2 separate regions of the Homo sapiens genome follow, and region 1 is linked to region 2. The links come from fine-mapping of genetic effects on gene expression. A gene starts in region 2. The other region holds a variant in brackets. All regions are shown on one strand. Distances are from middle to middle. Region 1 has its middle 16 kb from the start of TCP11. Region 2 holds the start of ZNF76 (zinc finger protein 76).

Evidence for each region. PIP is the estimated chance that this variant, and not a neighbour inherited with it, causes the effect. A credible set is the group of variants that fine-mapping cannot tell apart.
Region 1: its variant is the best candidate, but not a certain one, in a credible set for the expression of ZNF76 in subcutaneous fat (GTEx, PIP 0.57).

Annotation. Positions count from the first base shown.
Region 1 is chr6:35,155,911-35,158,931 of GRCh38, reverse strand. No RefSeq gene overlaps it. Among named protein-coding and RNA genes, the nearest start is that of TCP11, 16 kb to the right of the region's middle. The variant G/T (reference allele first, on the strand shown) is at 1,389.
Region 2 is chr6:35,258,303-35,260,802 of GRCh38, reverse strand. ZNF76 (zinc finger protein 76) reads right to left here and starts at 1,068. Exons shown (of 14, transcript NM_003427.5): 1 at 962-1,068. It overlaps SCUBE3-AS1 (SCUBE3 antisense RNA 1), which reads left to right and starts at 1,348. Exons shown (of 4, transcript XR_001744102.2): 1 at 1,348-1,513. RefSeq lists silencers at 636-955, 966-1,085.

The DNA.
Region 1 (3,021 bases), 100 kb after region 2:
ATTACAGGCGTGAGCCACAGGACCTGGCCCTACAATTGAATTGCTAAACAAATTTTTACTTGGATATTATTACTTAAAAGATGAATGCACTCAAGCAGCATTCAATCAATGAACCAACCATGTGCCCAGCACTATTACAGTTGTAACAAAGGATAAGAAAGAATTTGAACAGAAAGGAATTTTGCTCCCAGCCAAGATGGAGCAACAGTGACTGGATTTCCTCTCCTTCCTGAAATGAAACAAAGAAGGATGGAAGAAAGGAGGAAGTGAGGGAGGGAGATAAGGAAAGAATGAGAGAGATAAGAGAGGGAGGGAATGGGAAGAAAGGGGGAAGGAAGGAAAGAAGGTAAGTTGGTTTTCAAGACTGTTTCAGGCAAGAAAGGACATTTACTGAGAGATGGAAAAACAAGGTAAGCCCCACAACTGCCCTACAGCTTACTGCTTTATGAAGGCTTCCAGGCTGTGGTAGAGGGAGAGAAAACCAGGCACGTCTCAGCCAATTCTGAGTTGAAGAGACAGAGCTAAAAGGATACCAAGGTAGCTAGAGTTTTCAGGACAGAATACCAGACAGGAGAGAGCTACACAGAGGCCTGGAGATGTGTAGAGGGTCTCCCACAAGTATCTGGCATTATTGACCCATAGGGTGAGAAAACTACCCAAGGCTAGGGAGAGAACCTTCTAAGAGGACGAGAGAGCAATGTTATGTGTTCACACAGAGGTGGGAAGAGTGTTTCCACCAGCCAGACTGGAAAACTTCATAATTCATGAGGCATGGGTAAATTACTCAAAAGGGTACTGCCTTGGTATTGAGGAATAATTACCCCAACACAAAACACTGCTTTGGTCCCACCTAATAACGCTTTTTAATTTTTTTGTAAACAGGGTCTCACTCTGTCACCCAGGCTGGGGTGTAGTGGCACAAGCTTGGCTCACTGCAGCCTCAACCTCCTGTGCTCAAGCAATCATCCCACCTCAGGCTCCTGAGTAGCTAAGACTATAGGCCCACACCACCTTGCCTGGCTGATTTTTATATTTTTAAATAGAGATGGAGTCTCACTATGTTACCCAGGCTAGTCTTGAAATCCTGGGCTCCAGTGATCCTCCCGCCTCATCCTCCCAAAATGTTCAAAGTGATGGGATTATAGGCATGATCCAACTCGCCTGGCTCCCACCTAATAACTATTTTTTTTTTTTTGAGATGGAGTGCAATGGCACGATCTCGGCTCACTGCAACCTCCACCTCCCGGGTTCATGCCATTCTCCTGCCTCAGCCTCCCGAGTAGCTGGGACTACAGGCGCCCACCACCATGCCCAGCTAATTTTTTTGTATTTTTAGTAGAGATGGGGTTTCACTGTGTTAGACAGGATGGTCTCAATCTCCTGACCTT[G/T]TGATCCACCCTCCTTGGCCTCCCAAAGTGCTGAGATTACAGGTGTGAGCCACCGCACCCAGCTCCCACCTAGTAACTCTTAAAAGAAAGACCAAAAGAATCAAACTGTTGCCAAGTAACCTAATCGAATCCTATAACAATCCTATAACAAAGCTCAAGAATATTATAGAAATACCAAAATATCCTGTACTTAACGGGTAAAATTCACATTAGGCATCTAATGAAAGAATACCAGGCATGCAAAATATAACCTATAATGAGAAGAAAGATCAATCAATTAAAATTGACCCAGAACTGGCTGGGCACGGTGGCTCACGCCTCTAATCCCAGCAGTTTGGGAGGCCGAAGTGGGCAGATCACGAGGTCAGGAGATCGAGACCATCCTGGCTAACATGGTAAAACCCTGTCTCTACTAAAATTACGAAAAATTAGCCGGGCGTGGTGGCACATGCCTGTAGTCCCAGCTACTAGGGAGGCTGAAGCAAGAGAATTGCTTGAACTCAGGAGGTGGAGGTTGCAGTGAGCCGACATCGCGCCACTGTACCCCAGCCTGGGGGACAGAGTGAGACTCTGTCTCAAAAAATAATAATAAATAAAAATAAAATAAAAAATAAAATTGACCCAAAACTGACAAAGATGTTAGAATTAACAGACGAGTATGTTAAAACAGTTATTATGGCTATATTCCATATGTTCAAAAACATGCATAATATTTAAACGATGCAAAATGAACTTTTGAGATGAAAACTACAATTAGTAACATGAAAACTACAATGAGTAAGACGAAAATTACATTGGCTAAGGTTGATAGCAGACTAGATGTAGCAGAGGAAAATTTTAGTTATTAGAAAGACATAACAATAGAAGCTATTCCAAATTAAACATACAGAGAAAAAAGATGCTTAAAAAATAAAAAGAGCATCAGTGAGCTACAGGACAACTTCAAGCAGCCTCATATACATGTAATTGGAGTCCCTGAAAAACAGGGAGTACAGAAAAAATATTTGAAGAAGTAACGCTCAAAAATTTTCTACATTTTATGAAAACTATAAACCCACAAATCCAAGAAGCTCAATGAGCCCCAGCAAAAGAAATCTGAAGAAAATTACACCAATGCACATATAATCAAATCGCTCAATATATATAATAAAGAGAAAATCTTAGAAGCAGCCAGAGAAAAAAAGACATATTACATATAAAGGCACAAATATAAGGATAGCAGCAGATTTCCCACTGGAAACAGGGCAAGTGAGAAAACAGTTCAGCAAGATATTTTAAATGCTGAAAGAAAAAAAAAATCTGTCAATCTGAATCCTATATCAGCAGAAGTATCTTCAAAAATGAAGCTATAATAGAGACCTTTTTAGATGTGCAAAAGTTGAAAAAAATCATCAATGGCAAAACTGTACTATAAAAAATGTTAGGCTGGACGCGGTAGCTCACACCTGCAATCCCAACACCTTGGAAGGCTGAGATGGAAGGATCTTTTGAGCCCAGGAGTTCAACACCAGACTGGGCCACAAGATTAGACCCTGTCACTACAAAAAATTTAAAAATTAGCTGGGTGTGGTGGCACATACCTGTAGTCCCAGCTACTCAGGAGGCTGAGGCAGGAAGATTGCCTGAGCCCAAG
Region 2 (2,500 bases):
ACTGCATAATTTCACAATTTCACAGACGGAAGGAAACTCAAAGATCATCTAACCCAACCTCATCACAGTCATGATGAGAAACTGAGGTCCAGACTGAGGAGGGGACTTCTCACAGGTCCCTAAAGCACAGCAGTGACAGAGCTGGGACCACACACTGGATTGACTGGATTCTGGATTGATCCAGAATTCTCTGATGCCTCCAATTATTACTACTTCATATTAATCTCTATATCCTCCTTAGCACCAGAAAGGTGCTGGACGCTTGTAAGTCATGTGCTGATTGACACTGAAGGGCTGGGATCGCAGAGAGAGATGCCAGTGGGGGTGATTTTAGGATAAAGGCAGACGTGGAACGAGGGTCATACGGCTACAGGATAAAGATACTGAGGGTTGTGTACAAGGTGAGTGCGTGGAAAACTATTGGAGTAGGGCTTAGGAGTCGCCAGCAGAGTTTTGAGGGGAGTCACCGAGTTTGTGGGGAACACAAGGTAGAATCGGGGGGGTTACTGGGCCAGGAGGGTTACCCAGGTTTGGGGGTCACTAAGGAGGAGTGTGGGGATCTCAGGGTCATGTGAGTCACCGGATTAAAACTGAGGGAGTCACTGGTTGGTGGGTCTCTGAGAAGTGCTGGGGAAATTCCTGGGTTAGCAGCCAATGAATAATAACCAACGGTTACCTGGTGAGGTCTTGGGGTCAGTGGGTGGGGTGTGGGGTCACAAGGGTGGAGGCGGGCGCCGTCACGGGGTGAGGTTTGGGAGTCACGGGGGAGGAGCCGCAAGGCGGAAAAGAGGGGCAGGGACCCTGGGTGGGGGAGGGGGCCCGGCCGCGGTCCAGCGGCCAGGCCGCCCTGCTAGGGCCGGAGGGAGGTGGGCACGCCGGGCTCGGGACCTTCCCGGGGTCCTGCGCCCGCCCGGCCTCCCGCCCTGGGCATGGTTGGCCCACTCCTCCCGCAGCCACCAACCTGACAGCCCCCGAGGGCGACTCCGCCGACAGACCGCCATGCACCGGGCCCCGCCACCAGCGCCGGCCCCACAACCCGCCTGCGCCATAGCCCGCCCGCCCGCGCGCAGCTTGCCTCGCGCGATATCCAGGTTCCAGGGCCGCCGCACTTTCCTTTCCTCTTGGCGCGCCTCTACCGGGCCCCGGAACCCGTATAGAAAATACCGGGCACGGTCCACCCCGCCCCCCGCTTCGCCGCGGCAGCCATCCAACTTATCCTGGTTCCGGGGCTCCTGGAGCCCAGGCGGCCGGGATCTGAACCGAGCTCTTCGGAGCCCCGCCCCCACCAAGGCCGGGGTGACGCATGGCCAGCGAGGCTGAGCGCCCAGGGAAGGCGTGCTGACGTCACGACGCCCGGGTCAGGGCCTGGGCGCGGCTCGGAGCCGGGTCGTCGCTATAGCAATCGGGAACCGCTACCTGTCCATTCCAAGGATTCGGTCCAGCAGAAGCGTGAGGAGGTGGCGGAGGCCCCGAGGGCTTTGCGTCATCACTTCTGCGGCCTGCGGGCGAGAAGGTGCGCTTCGGGAGTAGCGCGGGAGGACAGGAGGCGCAGGTTGTGAGGGACGCAGGCCCTGGGGCTTCGGTCTCTGTCCTCCGAGCTCAGAGCCTCCAGGCTTCTTCCCGGCCGCGCGCTCAGCACTCACTGTCTTACGGTCCCGAAGCGCTTTAAGGTGCGCAGTCCGCAGGCCTTGCCTACTGATCTTCCAGCCACCCCTTGAAGGAAGCAGTTGCAGGTATTAAGAGCTCCTTATTGAAAAGGACGATGTAGAGGGGCGGTGAGGGACTCGCCTCCGCAGGGAGGGCGCCCTGGCGGTCTTCTCAGGTTCTCTCTCATTCCCGCGTCAGCTCCACCGTCAGGCTCGAAACCGACTACTCCCTTTTGTAGGCTTGCTTTGGGTTGAACATAAAAACCAAGCCCCTTTACTATTTCCCTGCTGGGAGGGGCTGCGATTGGGAAATTTTCAGAAACCTGAGGGAAAATTAAAAGGGAGCGAGCTTTCGGTAAAAAATCAAATTAAAAAGGAGGGGCGTTAGAGAAGGAACTGGTAAAGATTGCCTTTTAGGAGAGGAACTGGGTGGCTGGAAGAATGAGGTGAGAAACTTTCCCCTCTCTATCCTTTCAGACTTTAACTGGTTTCTTTTGTATCTTCCCCGCCCCGAAAACAATTTAACTTAATAAGAATAATTTTTAAAGGACGTAAACTAGACACAGTTACAAAGTACGGGGTTTGGGGCTTGTGGTAGCTAAAGGTGTCTTTGGGGATGCGGGCATCCTTTTCCTCTCCTGCCTGAAGAGCTTAACTAGAAAGCCCCCCTTTCGGTCTTAGACATCCCCTCTTCCTGACTTGTTCTGGCTGGGACCAGAGTTCAGTTTAGGTAGGCCAGTGAGTGACATTTGATGGTTAGAATTCCTACGGTTAGAATTAATCCCTTCTGTATCTCCTAGTATGGAAATAAACTGCCTGGCCACTATGCTGCCCTCTTTCCATTCCTTTTTGGT